2 separate regions of the Homo sapiens genome follow, and region 2 is linked to region 1. A link means that fine-mapping ties the variant in region 1 to the expression of a gene that starts in the linked region. Tissue or cell type: whole blood. Region 1 holds a variant in brackets; the other region holds the start of a gene. All regions are shown on one strand. Distances are from middle to middle.

What was found. PIP is the estimated chance that this variant, and not a neighbour inherited with it, causes the effect.
Region 2: C1QA starts here. The variant in region 1 is fine-mapped to the expression of C1QA in whole blood (TOPMed, PIP 0.98).

Annotation. Positions count from the first base shown.
Region 1 is chr1:22,533,304-22,541,563 of GRCh38, reverse strand. No RefSeq gene overlaps it. Among named protein-coding and RNA genes, the nearest start is that of EPHA8, 26 kb to the left of the region's middle. The variant T/C (reference allele first, on the strand shown) is at 4,064.
Region 2 is chr1:22,632,915-22,640,914 of GRCh38, reverse strand. It overlaps C1QA (complement C1q A chain), which reads right to left and starts at 4,287. Exons shown (of 3, transcript NM_015991.4): 1 at 4,213-4,287; 2 at 3,136-3,305; 3 at 1,237-2,082. The coding sequence starts at 3,298. The coding sequence ends at 1,508. It overlaps MIR6127 (microRNA 6127), which reads left to right and starts at 7,549; the gene lies at 7,549-7,657.

The DNA of each region.
Region 1 (8,260 bases):
CGATGGAGAAGGACTGAGGCCAAGGGAGGAATGAGGGGCAGAAGCTGGAGGAGGAGGGTAGAGAATTTGTAACCAGACTGTGGGCCTGTGGAGGGGAGAGGCCACGTCTTACTCCTTCCTGTATTTGGTACTGTGCCTGACATAGGTGGGATGAGCAGGGCGTATTGGATGAATGGATGGACAGATTGACCAAGAAGAGGCACATTGTGACACCTGGTCTCTGCCCCACGCCGAGGAAAGAGTGAGTCTGAGCTGCAGCTCTGGTGATGCCAGGTGCCAGCCTGGACCCAGAAAACGAAAGAGGAACAGTGGATAGGGTGACCTTACCACATGAGTCCAGACTCGCATCTCTCTACCTGGACGTGCAGTAGGCTCTCGAGCTCAGCCCGCATCCCCCGTGTGCTCTGCCTGTCTTCCCTGCCTTCTTGAGGTTGTCCCCAGCATAGCACCTGGCAACTTCATGCTTCCACTTTCAGACCAAAAATCTTGGGAATCATCCTTGAACCTCTTTTTCCTTAAATCCCACATCTAGTCCATCCGGGGACCCGGTGGGCGCCACTTGATCACTCCTCACCGTCACCCGTGTCCACATCATCATTTTCCTTGCTTGGCTAACAAAGGAGCCACTCAGAAATATTTTCTGGCTGTGGCTTCATTTTCATTTTTATGAAATTCTGCTGCGATGAGATATTGCAATGGCCCCTTAAGTAACCTCCCAGCACCACCCCCCAACTCCCCACCTTATATTTATTCTCTGCACAGCAGCTGCAGCACCTCTGCTCAAAACCCTTCACTGGCCACAGCCTTAAAATGACCTAGAAGGCCCTGCATACTCTGGGCCCTGACCACTTTCTCGCTTTCTCTCTTACTACCCTCTCCCATGCCCACTCTGCTCCAGCCACCCTGGCCTCCCAGGCATCCTCAAGCAGGCCGTGCATGTTCCTGCCTCCAGGCCTTTGCACTGGCTGTCCCTCTGCCAGGAACATCCTTCCCTAGACATTCACACGGCCACTCCCTCAAAGCCAGCGGGTCTTTGCTCAAGTCATTGAATCAGCGAGGCCTTTCCTGGCCACCCTGGAATTGCAACATTGCCTGGTACTTCCTGTCTGCCCCCTGCCCCCCAGTTTAATTTTTCTCCCTGGGGCTCACCATTATCTAGCAGACTATATATGTAGTCACTGTCTTGACTCAACTGTGAGCTCCATAAAGGCAGGGACTGCAGTCTGTTCTGTTCACTGTGGGGTCTCCACATCTACAATGCTGTCTGCCCATCATAAGGGAATGAATGAATTCTAGGAGTTTTGGAGCTGGGTGAGGCAGGGGACTGTGCCTGTCTCAGGAAGTCTCAGGCATGGTGGTAGCATTCTTTGCCTCTTCATTTGCTCTTTTTGCTCAGTCACTAGTCACAAGGCCCTGTGGAGGATTAAGACGTGAACATATGCTGGGTGCGGTGGCTCACATCTGTAATCCCAGCACTTTGGAAGGCCAAAGCAGGAGGATCACTTGAGCTCAGTAGTTCGAGACCAGTCTGGGCAACATAGTGCGACCCCGTCTCTACTAAAAATAATAATTAAAAAAAAATTAGCCGAGAGTGGTGGCCCCACCTGTGGTCCCAGCTGCACAGGAAGCTGAGGTATAAGGATCACTTGAGCCTGGGAGATTGGGGCTGCAGCGAGCCACGATGGCGCCGCTGCACTCCAGCTTGGGCGACAGAGACCGTGTCTCAAAAAAAAAAAAAAAAAAAGACACGAACACAGACAAATACTGTATGATTCTACTTCTATGATACACCTAGACCGCTTAATTTCCTAGAGACCGGGTAGAATGGTGGTTGCTGTGGTGGGGTGGGGGGTCGGGGTGGTTCAGGGAGAGGAGAACAGGAAGTGACTGACAACAGATACGAGGCTTCTTTCTGGGGCAAAGAGAATGTTTGATGGATACAGAGCTTCAGTATGAAATGATGAAAAAGTTCTGGAGACAGGTGGTAATGGTGGTTGCACCAGTAAGAATGTACTTAATGCTACTAAACATGACACTTAAAAATGGTTAAAAAGGTAGACTTTGTTACATATATTCTATCAGAAAAAAGTAATAAAAAGACATGAACACACATGACCACATGCTCAATACTATGGGTTGTACAAAGTATGGGAGGAGTCCAGGGAAGGAGTTCCCTGGCTGAGGTCACAGAGGCCACTTTCTGCAGTGGGAGACATTTGGGCTGCGCTTGCAGGACTGGGGGGAAGCTGGGTGGGAAAGGCTGGCAGAGGGTGTGGGTTGGTGGATGGGGAGGAGGATGGCCCTGAGTGTGTGTGCTTGGCTGGGGGTACTCACAGTTCCATGTTGGGAACCTCGAGGCTCTGTGCCCCCTGCCCCCCTGGCAGTCTAGGTCCAGGTCCCCAGGAAGGCCTGTGAGAAAGGTTCTGACCAGAAGATGGGAGTGACCCATGGTGTCCAGGGGATCCTATCCTCAGGGCTCCTGAGTGGTCAGATGAGGAAGCCCTCCCCAAACCTGGGGTTCTGGTCTTGTTCACTCGGCCAGCCAGGCGTAACCCGAGAGACTTGGACTCCAGCATCCCCAGACCTCAGGCCCTGGTTCTCCCAGTTGGCGCCGAGGTCACAGCCTTCCCGAGGTCAGCAGTGGGGATCGCAGCAGACTCACTCCTCTCTGTTGCCTCACGGACACCAGAGGCCAGAGCACCCAGCACAGACTTCTCCTGCAACAGCTGGGTCAGGCCCCAGGAAACTAATAACCACTACTGAGCCCACTCTGGCTGGCATCACACAGGGGCCTTCCTGGGTATTACATTCTACCCCCTACCCTCCCCATTTCACAGAAGATGCAAATAAGGCTCAGAGAGCTTAAATGGCGTGCTCAGTCACAGTGCCGGGCAGCAACAGTGTTGACATTTGACCATCTGACTCCATATCCCTGACTGTCAGCCTGGGGGCTATCCTGGACTCTAGGCTTGCTTCAGACCAGGGCTGGCAGGGATGGCTGAGCCACTGTCCTCGTGCCCTGCTCCTCTCTTGAGCCATGCCCTCCCCTCAGCTCTGGGAAACCTCCCTCTTCCAGGACTAAATGCTTCTGTTACCTGTCCCTTCCAGATCCTCCCAGCTGTGCCACTGGTGGGCACAGCCCCCAAGGCCCACACCCACTAAGGTGAGGGGGCAAGGCTGCCCTGCAGTGAAAGCTGCCACAGGAGGCTCTTTGGTGCTGTTCTCAGCACTGGTGCCACCATCTTGGCCCGAAGAGGGCATGTTTCTCCTCCCAGTTGAGGACAGAGACTTCTTCCAACATCTCTTCCTTGTTCCTTGAGATGGGGCCATGGGGTATCGCTGGGTCTTGTGCATGCAGCACAAAAGCGTTATCAGGACCTTCACTGAGCACGCGCCCCATGGCAGCCCCATGCCAGGCTCTTCTTGTGCCAGATCTTGCTGGGCGCTCCCACTCCACAGGAATGGCATCCTTACAGATGAGAAGCCCAAGGCTCAGAGGTAAGTCACACACCGTGAAAGTGGCAGTCCGAGCCAGAACCCTGGTTTCTCTACTTCCCATGCTACCCAAGGAATCAGAAACGTTGGAGGAGGGCTCGTGGAGGTTATCTAATCCACTTGCGGGGGTGGGGCTGAAAAGACTCGACCAAGGTCACACAGCTCATGAGTGACAATGAATTGCGTCTTCTCATGACTTGCATTGTAAGTGTGCTGGAACTAACACATCTTGTTCCATGATGAAACAAAAATCGTATTTAAGATTACATATGCTTTTAAAAAAAGCATTTACTTGAGGCAAGTGCTTTCTAGAATAGTTGTGAGAAAGCTGCAAACACACAGGCGAGGCTGCCCCCCAGGAGTGGCGTGCCTGGCCCTCTGCCCACTCTCTGGGAGCAGTGGCTGTGCCCAGACAGCATGCTCAGTACAATGCTGTCTTCTCAAAGATAGGGGCCAGCGAAGTGTGTGATGGGAAGTGGGAGGGCTTCCTGGCTGCCTCTGTGGCACTTTCTAATTTCGCTTTAGCTCTGGTCTGGAGCTGGTGAGAAAAAGGAACAAAAATAGGGTA[T/C]TTTGTATTTATGCCAATGTGACCCTTCCAGTAAAAGCTGGTGACCTTGGGCAAGTTTCTCAATCTTTTTGAGCCTCTATTGACTCCGGGAAATGGGGTCACAGTAGTGTTATTGTAGATTCAGTATCAGGCTCAGTCCTGATGGAGGTAGAGCCCCGGCGCCCAGCCTGGGGGTGACGGGTGGTCAATATAACAGCATCAACGCTGACGAGGATGAAGATGCAGGAGGGTACAGCGGTGATGTGGCTGTCCGAGCGCACAGCCAGGGAGTGAGGGGCAGCCTTCACAAATGAAATGAAGCCTTCTGAACCTCACAGCCAATGTCCACCACTCGTGCGCATCTCCCTCCCGACACTGGGCGCCAACGGAAATGCCACAGGCTTTGCAATCTCACAGATCTGGACTTGAATCTGGACTCAGCCACTTCCTGTGTGACCCTCAACCCCCTGAGCCTTCATCCAGTTCTACGCTGTCCAATAACAGCAGCCACGAAGCTACATGGGACTATTTAAATTAAAACTATGGTTCCTCAGGTGCACTAGACACATTTCAAGTGCCCCACAGTCACACATGACTAGTGGCTCCCACACTGGACAGTGCAGAATGGACCACTGTCGCCATCACAGAGAGTCCTACCGGCCAGTGACTGTGGGTGTGGCACCTGCGTTGGGGATGAGGTACACACGCTCTGGCCCAGAGCAGAAGTCAACAAATGGCGGCTCTCACCCATCCCTGCTGCTAGGACTTGGACTTGAGTCTCCTCACTTGCCTGGCCTAAGAGGCACTTCTCCTTGCCAAGTGGATGTAATGCTGGGTCCAGCTGTTCTCACTGCAGTTCTGCTACTGACTCACCATGTGATGGAACAACCAACTGTCCTGAAACCTCGATTTCTTCATCTGCAAAATAATCATCTGCGCCCCTCCAGCCTCAGAGCACTGCTGCCAGAACCAAGCATGTAAATGACTGAAAGTGCTGTGAAACACAGGGAGGTGTAACAGGCAACACAGCGAGGTGGAGAAAATCCTGCGTTCTGTGTCAAAAACCTGGACTCCAATTCCACCTCTCACTAGCGGAGGAGCCTTGCGTCTAAGGCTGAGGTCTTGTACTGTCTGAATCCCTTTACTGTAAAAAGAGGTAACAATAAAGATACCTAAACTTTCATGTGACTGTAAGGATCAAAAGAAATAATGTATATGAAAGTATCTAAAAATAGCAGAGTGTGATTCCAGAATAAGGCATTATGGGACTACCATTATCCATGCAAAAGGGAGGGCAGGCCAGGGGGGTCACGCATCTGCCGCCTCCTCTCTTTCCGTGCTCCACCTGCCCCACAGCCCTACTCCTACCAGGTGAGGCCTCTGCTGCTCCAAGTCAACTGACCGCTGGTTGGGACAGAAATGGGGACACCATATGGGTAAGACGACCCACTCCTCAGCCATAAAAAAGAATGAGATCATGTCGTTTGCAGGGACATGGATGGAGCTGGAGACCATCATCCTTAGCAAACTAACACAGGAACAGAAAACCAAATAAATACCACATGTTCTCACTTGTTAGTGGGAGCTAAATGATGAGAGCACATGGACACATAGAGGGTACAACACACACTGGGGCCTTTTGGAGGGTGCAGGGTGGGAGGAGGGAGAGGATCAGGAAAAATAACTCATAGGTACTAGGGCTTAATGCCTGGGTGATGAAATAATCTGTACAACCCATTTCTGTGACATGAGTTTACCTATGTAACAAACCTACACTTGGATCCCTGAACTTAAAGTTAAAAAACAAAAGACAACCCATTCTGCTGATGCCAGACCAAGAAACCAACTCCACTGGGGCCACATGGCCCAAGCCGTTGGGAAGCATGAGGTCCAGGAAGCCCCCTGCATTGACTATGCGCCCCCTGCATTGACTGTGTGCCCCCTGGGCTGGAGGGGCTTGTTCCAGGCAGGCTCCACAGTGCCACTGCAGCAGTGGGAGGAGCGCAGGTCTCAGGTCTCCGAAGAGCCCAGACCTACTCCCGATTCTGCTGCTTACCTGCTTATACGAGACATGTCTCCTCAGTGCCAGGATCTCTGGCTGTCCTGCATCTCAAGGAAGAGCCCCAAGTGAGCTGTCAAGTGTCAACTGAGGACCGGTGAGACTGAAGAGCATGGGGTCCAAAAAAGTGACAGGACCCAGGCCACTGATCCCACGCAAGGCAAAGGACATGACCCTTTGCTCCTGGACACATTTCTGGCTGATAAAAGCAGTTTTAGGCCTGCCTGGCTGTCTCAGGCAGGATGGACAGAGGGGACGGGAAAGGAGAGAAAGCAGGTGGAGAGTCCTTGGCTCTATGACAACAGTCCAGGTGTGACAGCAAGGCTGCTTAAGGCATAGGAAGTGGGGATAAGCCACATTTTCTGGCTGATTAGGTATTAAACAAGAAATGCTTAAAAATAGCAAGCGATTTAAGAGCAGACTCTGGAGTCAGACAGCTGGGTTTGGACCCCAGCTATGCTGCTCTCTAGCTACATAGCGACTTCACCTCTCTGGTGTTGGTTTCCTCATCTGTAATGCAGGGATAATAATAGCACCTACATTGTGGAGTTGGTGCTAGAATTCTAAGAAATAAGAATTACTGGGCTGGGCACTGTGGCTCATGCCTGTAATCCCAGCACTTCGGGAGGCCGAGGCAAGTGGATCACCTGAAGTCAGGAATTCAAGACCAGCCTGGCCACCAAGGTGAAACACTGTTTCTACTAAAAATACAAAAACTAGCCAGGTGTGGTGGTGCACACCTGTAATCCCAGCGACCTGGGAGGCTTAGGCAGGAGAATGGTTTGAATCTGGGAGGTGGAGGTTGCAGTGAGCTGAGATCGTGCCACTGCACTCCATCCAACCTGGGCAACAGAGTGAGACTCTGTCTCAAAAAAACAAAAAATTACAAAAAGCTCTTCATCCAGTGTCTAATGTGTGGTAAGCATGTAATAACACCAATTATTAATTAGGATATTTCTTTTTTTTTTTTTTTTTGAGATGGAGTCTCGCTCTGTCTTCTCCAGGCTGGAGCGCAGTGGCGTGATCTCAGCCCACTGTAGCCTCCGCCTCCTGGGTTCAAGTGATTCTCCTGACTCAGCCTCCCAAGTAGCTAAGACTACAGGCATGCACACCACGTCCGGTTAATTTTATATTTTTAGTAGAGATGGGGTTTCACCATGTTGTCCAGGCTGGTCTCGAACTCCTGACCTCAGATGATCCACCTGCCTCGGCTTCCCAAAGTGCTGGGATTATAGGCATGAGCCATCGCGCCTGGCCTATTTCTAAAAAATATTAATCCTCCCCTTCCTTCCCCTACCCATGAAAAAGACCAACCAATCAACCAACTAACCAAAACCCCCACAGAATTTGTAGGCGCTGGGATCTTTAGATCTTGAGTCTGGACAGACATGGGTGTTTTGGTATCTGTTTCTCATTCATATATAATCCTTACCTGGCTGATGAGTCCTGTAGGAGCGGGAGCCAGGCACCATTTTAGCCCGGTAACAGGACCTCACCGAGTCCCAGAACTTCAGGTCTAACATACCTGTGCAATCAGGCACCTGATGTGCCAGGCTAACTGCTGGGTACACACATGTGCATGTAAGAGAGAGAACGAGGATAATGCACAGTCCTTGCCCTTGAAGGGGTCGCAGTTTAGCGGGGGAGGATCTTAAGTCATCCTGTGACAATCTAATAATCCCATGCTCCCAAACCCACATGTGCTCTTGACATCTCTCTCACCCCCACATACTCATACGTGCACACACAGCTCCCGTCTCCTCAGCTCCAGCTCTGCCTTTCTGGAAATGCTGGCTTGGTGTGGACCCTGTGTGGAGCACAGGGGTTTCAACCTTAAACAAAATGAAAAGCTGTTTGGTCCTGTGCCAGCCCCACAGGCCCCCTTCCCCGCCCCCTGCCCATTTTTATCAGACCCTCCTGATGGCAGGGCTGTGAAATCTCCCCTGGAGGGGACCGTGGGTCCCTGGACTGACCTTGTCCTGATGTGTTTGATCAGCTGTTTCTGGCCTGCGCCGGGGGAGCCAGAGCTAGAAGAAGCGGCAGGAATGGTGTTTGATCAGAGCAGCTGGGAGTGGTGGGGCCTGGCTGGCTGCTCTTAGCCTTCTGCTAATCTCTCCTCAGAGGACAAAGAGAGGAGGATGTTCTGACAGACCAGCCCA
Region 2 (8,000 bases), 99 kb before region 1:
CAGGAAGGACTGCGGAGTGCCCTTGGGCCAATTGCTTCCCCTCTCTGATTCCTGCCCCTGCCTTCCCAACACAGGGTTGAAAAAGCACCTGTGTGATGTGTCATGTGCTTCATAGAAGCCAGGGAGGCTGGTGAGGGTAGTGGTTAAACACAGGCTTGGGCATCAGTAAGACTTGGGTTCAAATCTCAGCTCCTTCCCGCCTCCCCACCCTCCAATTTTTTTTTTTTTTTTTTTTTTTTTAAGAGATGGAGTCTCGCTCTGTCACCCAGGCTGGAGTGCAGTGGCGCGATCTCAGCTCACTGTAACCTCTGCCTCCCTGATTCAAGTGATTCTCCTGCCTCAGCTTCCCAAGTAGCTGGGACTACAGGTGTGCGCCACCACCCCTAGCTAATTTTTGTATTTTTAGTAGAGACAGGGTTTCACTATATGTTGGCCAGGCTGGTCTCGAACTCCTGACCTCTAGTGATCTGCCCGCCTTGGCCTCCCAAAGTGTTGGGATTACAGGCGTGAGCCACTGTGACTGGCCCCCAGATCCTCCCCTTAGATGCTGATTTGCTGATTGATGCCTACTCCTCGCAGCCTCAGTTTCATCATCTGTAATGTAGGGCCATCATACCATACCCAGAGCTTGGTCATAAAGATTAAATAAAATATAATAATAGCAAAAATTTCCATAGCCCTTGTTATAAACTGAGCACTGCTCTACAATTTTCATATATTAAGTCATTTAATCTTCCCAATGACCCTTTGGGATCATCAGTCCCACTTTACAGATGAGGAAACTGAGATCTCAGAGCTGGGTTAACATGCACATGATTAGACAGCTAATAAGTGGTGGCATCAGGATTCGAACCTGGGTAGATGAGGCTGCTAGGACATGCTAAACACATCATGTGAAATACTAAGAATGGGCTGGGCGTGGTGGCACATGCCTCTAATCCCAGCACTTTGGGAGGCCAAGGCTGGAGGATCACTTGAGGTCAGGAGTTCGAGACCAGCCTGGCCAACATGGTGAAACCCCTTCTCTACTAAAAATACAAAAAATTCACGGGGCATGGTGGCAGGTACCTGTAATCCCAGCTACCTGGGAGACTGAGGCAGGAGAGTTGCTTGAACCCGGGAGGCGGAGGTTGCAGTGACCGAAGATCACTCCATTGCACTCCAGCCTGGGTGACAAGAGAGAAACTCCATCTTAAAAAACAAAAAACAAAAAAACATACTAAGGACGGGCCTGACTCTTAAGCACTGGATTGTTATTATTCTTAGGCCTCCCTCTCAATGCTCCGAGTAGCAACTGAAGCTCATGTTCAGCAGACACAGACACAGATGTTTATTCCAGGAAGAGGTCTAAGAAACGAGCTTCTTAGAGCATGTGTCACGGGGCAGCCAGTCCTGGGGCTCTCAGAGCCAGCCCCCTCCCTTCAGCAGCTGAAGCAATAGCGCCCCCATTTTACAGGCGGAGCATGGAAGCCAGAGAGGTGGGTGGGGGAGGGGGTCCTTCCCTGGCTCAGGCAGATGGGAAGATGAGGAAGCCGCTGAAGACGCTGTCGGCCTCAGAGCCCTGGTAAATGTGACCCTTTTTGGGGTCTTTTTCAACCCAGACCTGGTCACCCTGCTGCAGCTGAAGCACCATGCCCCCTGACACCACCTGGAAGAGCCCCTTGTTGGTGGTGTCACAGAAGCCCAGGGAGCGTCGGACCTGGCCCCTTGAGGAGGAGACGATGGACAGGCAGATTTCCCACTGGGACAGCACCTGGAAGGTGAAGTAGTAGTAGCCGGGTACAGTGCAGACGAATCGGCCGGAGTGGTTCTGGTACGGTTCTTCCTGGTTGGTGATGACCGTGTCGAAGATGACCACGTTGCCCCCCATTGGGGGGTTCCGCCGAATGGCGGAGAAGGCTGGCCTCGGCTGGTCCTTGATGTTTCCTGGGCTGCCCTTGGTGCCTTTAATTCCCGGGATGCCACGGGCTCCGAGGGGGCCGCTGGGCCCTGGGTAGCCCACCTTGCCGGGGTTTCCAGAGGGCCCAGGTTCCCCCTGGTCTCCTTTAAGGCCTTGGATGCCTGTCCGGATGCCAGGGGCCCCTGTGGGGAGAAATGCCAGATTGGAAGTGAGAGTCCAATGCCTACTGGTCCTCAGGGAGAGAGCTGGACCCCCTGAGTCTATGGGATAAAGGGCAATGAAGCACCTGGGCCTTCAGGACATCGATTCTGATTGGCTGTGTGACTTTGGGCAAGTGTCTCAACCTCTCTGAGCCTCCACTTCATCTGTAAAGTGGAGAGAAGTGTGAACAGGCACTTGGGAAAGTGTCAGGTTCTGGGAAATGCATGGAACTCTGGCTGCTCTGCTGTGTTCCTGCCCAAGGCTGAGGACTTCATACCCCTCTGGGGCACTGACCTTGACTTGGCTTCAGGTTCAGGTACCACATGTAGGATGCCCGGATGCAAATTACTGCAAATGTCTATGTGATCCTTCTGGTCTGCTTTGGACTAGGAGGCCCAGGGTGATTCCATGAGACTCCCTTTCTACTTTGGTCAGGACCTCTTCCCTTTTCCATTACCCCTGGCCTTTCTTCTAGAATGTGAGTCTCTGAAGCCTGAAGGGGCTGGGGAGGGGGAAGCAGGGACAGTGTTGGGGGTGCTGGAAGGAAGTGAAGGGACAGATTCAGTTATTTGATCCCTCTCTATGTGCCAGGCAGTGTTATTTTTCCATTTTACAGATGAGCCCACTTAGGCTCAGAGAGGGCCAATAACTTGCTTGAGGTCACACAGCAAGGCAGTGGCTCCTGAGTCTAAACTCTGAGTCCTCGTTTTTCTGGCAAGAGAAACATGAACAAGGACTCAGCATTGCTGCCAGAACTTTCACTTTCACTGGTCAAAGCAAGTCATTCTCCAGAGGGGGAAGGTGAAGCCGAAGAAAGAGGGCCCAGGCAGTACACAGGGAGTGGAGAGGCCTGAGGACATGGCCCGAGAAGGCTAGGCCTCCCTTAGCCCCTGTGGCCAAGTACAAACTGGAGAGGATTCATGGGGCACTGGGGGCAGACGGACTCCTGATTCTCAGTGCCACCCCAAGCCTTCACCCTGGAGGCCAAGTCAGGCCAAGGTCCAAGGGGCTGGGTCCCGAGGAAGGGTGCTTACCCGGCTCCCCTTGCTCCCCCTTGAGGCCTGGCCGCCCCCGTCTGCCAGGTCTTCCTGCCTCCCCTTTCTTCCCGTCTGGTGCTCGGCACAAGTCCTCGGTCACCATAGAGGCCAGCGATATGGCCAGCACACAGAGCACCAGCCATCCCCGGGGACCCTCCATGATGCCTCTGTGGAGACACGGGAGGGCCTGGGCAGGTTGGACATCACACTCACACCCAGCTCCCACCCTTGAGTCCCATGCACACAATGATATATGCACAGTCCTCCCCAAGTGCACATGCACCCTCTGGGGCTCTCAATGTCCACTCTCAATCCAGCCCCAGGACCCCACGCATATACACAGAACCACAAACTCACACACATCCACACATGCAACAGAGCACACCCACATCTTCACACACTCACACAAACACAGCTCTCATCCACGCACCTACAAAACACAGTAGGCAAACTCAGAAATCCACTATACCCCCCTAGACACACAACTGATACCCAAATAGACCCTGTCCCTCACTTGCACGGACACACACATTCATACACTCCCACAGGTAATCGATTTCATTGAACAAATATGTATTGAGCGCCTGCTCCTTATTTAATTAACACTGGCTCACCCAGATGGTGGAGCTCTGCATACACACAGGAATTCACAAACGCCCAAAGCGACACCTGCTCACTCTTCTGCATGCTCAGCGCCTTTCAGCATCCACCTGAGCATGGGTGACTGGCTGCCCCTACAGTCCCCTCTGCTGGGTCCCACTGCCAGCTCTAGCACCCCAGGCTTTTCCTGGTTTCTTATGTGTTATGGGGCCAGGACCCAGGAACCCTGGTCTTACCCTTCAGTTGTTAGGTCTAACTCATCGCCTCTCACCCTCCCCCAAGCCCTGGCTCAAGGAGTTAAGGTCCCTCCACTCACCCATTCTGGGTCCTGGATCAGTGCTGCACCCCCATCCCTGTCCTAGAATCAGGCACAGTTATTTCCCTCCCTCCCTGCCTCAGCTGCCCAGCCTCCTGGGCCAGCTCCCCTGGGTCCCAGAACTCTGCAGCCCCCTCCCTCTGGGACTCTGGCCTCACCTGCCTCCTGTTGTCAACTCCAACTGGATGCTCCTGCCCTCCGCCCAGGGACCCTGTGGGCTGCCCAGCAGGAGTGGCTCCAGGCTGTGGCCAAGTTTCACATCCCTTCCTACTTCCCCTTCTTCAGACCTGCCCCCTGAACTTCCCCAGTGGCCAGAAGCTCACCAGGGACATTTCAAGCAGACTTCAGCAAGACTGGGACATTGGGCGTCCTGCCCCAGCAACAGCTGGTGTGGGAGTGGGGGCAGTGAGGCCAGTGCCTGTGAGGATGTGGGGTGGAGGCCGTGCAGGGTGAGGTTCTGAGAACCAGCGAAGCACAGAACACCAGAGCGGAAGGAATCTTTAAAAAAATCTGTCCCTTGTAGGACTTTTCATGATTATGAAAGTGACATGCAATTCATTGCCAAAAGCTTGGAAAATACAAAGAAGAAAGAACAGTGCATTGGTGAGAAGGAAGCACAGCAATCTGTTTCTAGACTTGCTGCTTCCTAGTTGCATGTCTTTGGGAAATTACTTGACCTCCTGAGCCCTCAGTTTTATCTGTACACTGGGAACGGGGTCCTATATCATCTGATTATTATAACATTTTAATGACTTGCACATACAAAACACTTGGCACATGGTGAACACTTAGTCACTAGCTTTTGCCAACATTTAAAAAAACAGCAAGTCTAGGTGCTTTGGCTCACGCCTGTAATCCCAGCATTTTGGGAGGTCAAGGCAGGCGGATCACTTGAGGTCAGGAGTTCGAGACCAGCCTGGCCAACATGGTGAAACTCCATCTCTACTAAAAATTTAAAAAATAGCCAGGTGTGGTAGCATGCACCTGTGTAGTCCCAGCTATTTGGGAGGCTGAGCTGGGAGGATTGCTAGAGCCCAGGAGGTTGAGGCTGCAGTGAGCTTTGATCTTACCACTGCACTCCTGCCTGGGAGACAGAACAAGACCCCATCTCAAAAAAAAAAAAAAAAAAAAGAGATGGCAATGGCGGGCCGTCTGGAATGGCTGCTGTCATCACACTGGCTGCAGCAGGGAGGCACGGCCAGGGCTGCATGCTCCATGTAGCCAGTGGGAGCTGGGGACAGTGGGAACCCCGCCCTCCTGGGAACCACTGCAGCTGCCAAACCACAGCTGATCCTGCTTCATGGAGCAGGTGGGGGCCCCCGCCATCCCCCATGCAGCTGCAGCTGCCTAAACTGCAGCTGTGGACCCAGGCATCCCTGCAATCTTGGGGGCCCGGGAAGGCCCCCCGCCCCACCCTTCAGGCTCAGAAGTGTCTGCTCCCACTGCCTGGCTTCTCCCTCCTCTTGGCGCCCACTCTGATCTTAGAGCAAAGTTGGTGCTGAGCCTGGGTGCTGTCGCAGCCTGGCTGGGTGTGGGCATGCTTGGGGCAGTGCTGACACACTAGACCCCTGCTGCCTTGGCCCCCTCTGGACTTTGGGCACTGACTAGCATGGAAGGAAAGCCAAGGGGAAACTGAGGGCAGCTCGGCACTGGCCTGCAGACGCTCCTTGGCATGAACAGCCTGGGCACCATGAACAGCAGCAGGAGACAGACAGGCTCCTGGGTGGAAGGGGATGGGTCCCTGGTGAGGCCCTACCTTCAAGCCAGGGAGGGCCTCAAGGCTGGGGGCCAGGCTGCCAGTCCCACACACCAGAGTGGGAACTTATGGTGTATTTTCTGGGCTTGCCTATAGCCACCCATGGACCAATCAGTATGCACTTCCTCCTCTCTGAGGCTCATGAAAGCTTCAGGCTCAGCCAGAGCTGGGCAGACATTGGATGACCAGCTGCCGAGAGGAGCTACCCGCTCCAGGGCCTCCTCTCTGCTGAGAGCTGCAGAGATGGCAGAACAACTTGCCTGCAGAAAGGAGCTTCCCATTCCAGGGTCTTCCCTCTTCTGAGAGCTGGAAAGTCGACAGGATGACCTGCCTGCAGAGAGGAGCTTCCCATTCCAGGGTCTCCTCTCTGCTAGCAGCTGAACACTCATCAGGACACCCTGGCTGTGGAAAGGAGCTGCCCCCTGAGGGAGGCTCTGCAGGAGGCTGAGCTGTTCTATCGCTCAGTAAAGCTCCTCTTCGTCTTGCTCACTCCCCACTTGTCTGCATACCTCATTCTTCCTGGTTGCAGGATAAGAACTTGGGACCCATCAAATGGTGGGGCTGAAAGAGCTGTAACACAAACAAGGCTGAAACATGCCCCTTGCTTGCCATGATGCAGGTGAAGGGAAGGAAAGAAGAGCTGCGGCCCTCTGGGGAACCCAGACCTGGGAGCTCCCCAAGCTGGAGCTGTGACTCCCTTTTCGGGGCCCTGTGGTTCCTGGCATCTCGAAGCTTCTGGGTGCCACCGTGTTCCCCGGTGCCAGCTGTGGAAGCTGCTTGTGGTGTACTTGGTCTAGCCACAACCTCTCAGAGAGCTGGCGCCCATGCTGGCACCTGGAGCTGCTCACCCCGCTGCAGCAGCCGGCATGTCTGACTGTGTGCAGTGGCCAGACCCCATGTTCACTCACACACCCTTCACTGTTCCATGCCTGACTTGCCCTGGGCAGATGTGGAACCCAGGCTGGTAATGTGAGCTGAGTGCTGCCTGCCAGGAGGAGTGAGTGAAACAAGCCCAGTGGGCCTGAGCAAAACTTGGGCAAAGGTGCCACCAGCCACAGAGGTTTCCGGCCAGAAAATGACACCCCAAAGATCCTGTAACACCATCTCAAAAAAAAACAAAAAACAAAACCCAGCAACAAAAGCCTGTGAATTCTACCATCTAGAGACAATTGCTGCTAGTGTTTGAACAGATCATCTAGCCTTACTCACCTTAACTGATGGGATGCTCATTACCTGTCAGCACGGCACACTGCATCATTGTCAGCTTGGACCCTGAGAATGCTTTTCTTTAGATAGAGAGGCTCTGTCTCTCCCAGACTGGAGACCAATGTGTTCAGGCCTGGGCTGACCACATCTGTCTGCTTCTTCTCATGAGCATGTTTTTGTTTGTTTGTTTGTTTTCTGAAAATTTTGCCAGAGGCAGGAGGAGGAAAAGAGGAGGAGGAGGGAGGAGATAAGGGAAGGCTGTTGAAGTGGGCAGATGAAGGATGGTCTAGAGCCAGGGTTTTTGAGCTTTGGGGACTTCTTTTTCATTTGCAATCTTGTGTGGCATCTGATGTATGTCAAACAGATAAAAATGGGGATACTGGCTTGAAGGGTGGGGGCCCAGAGCTCCCCCTGACAGCCCCTCCCATGCTCCCTGGATTCAGAAAGTTCGTGGAGCTGGAATCTCATCTGCTCAGCCCATACCTAACTCACAGTGTGACCCTGGGCAAGTTATCTCATCTTTCTGAACCCCACTTTCTCCATCTACCAAGATGAGGGAGTGGGTGGGAGGTGGGAAGGCTGCCCCAAATGGCCTCTAACATCCCTTCCAGTCTCCTCCTCCTCCTCCTCCTTCTTCTTCTTTTGAGACAGAGTCTCATTTTTTTGCCCAGGTGGGAGTGTAGTGGCTGGATCTCAGCTCACTGCAACCTCTGCCTCCTGGGTTCAAGAGATTCTCCTGCCTCAGCCTTCCAAGTAGCTGGGATTACAGGCACGCATGCACCACCATGCCCAGCTAATTTTTGTATTTTTAGTAGAGACGGGGTTTTGCCATGTTGCCCAGGCTGGTCTCAAACTCCTGACCTCAGGTGATCTGTCCATCTCGGCCTCCCAAAGTGCTGGGATTACAGGCGTGAGCCACCGCGCCCAGCCCAGTATCCATCTTCTTCTTCTTCTTCTTCTTCTTTTTTTTTTTTTTTTTTTGAG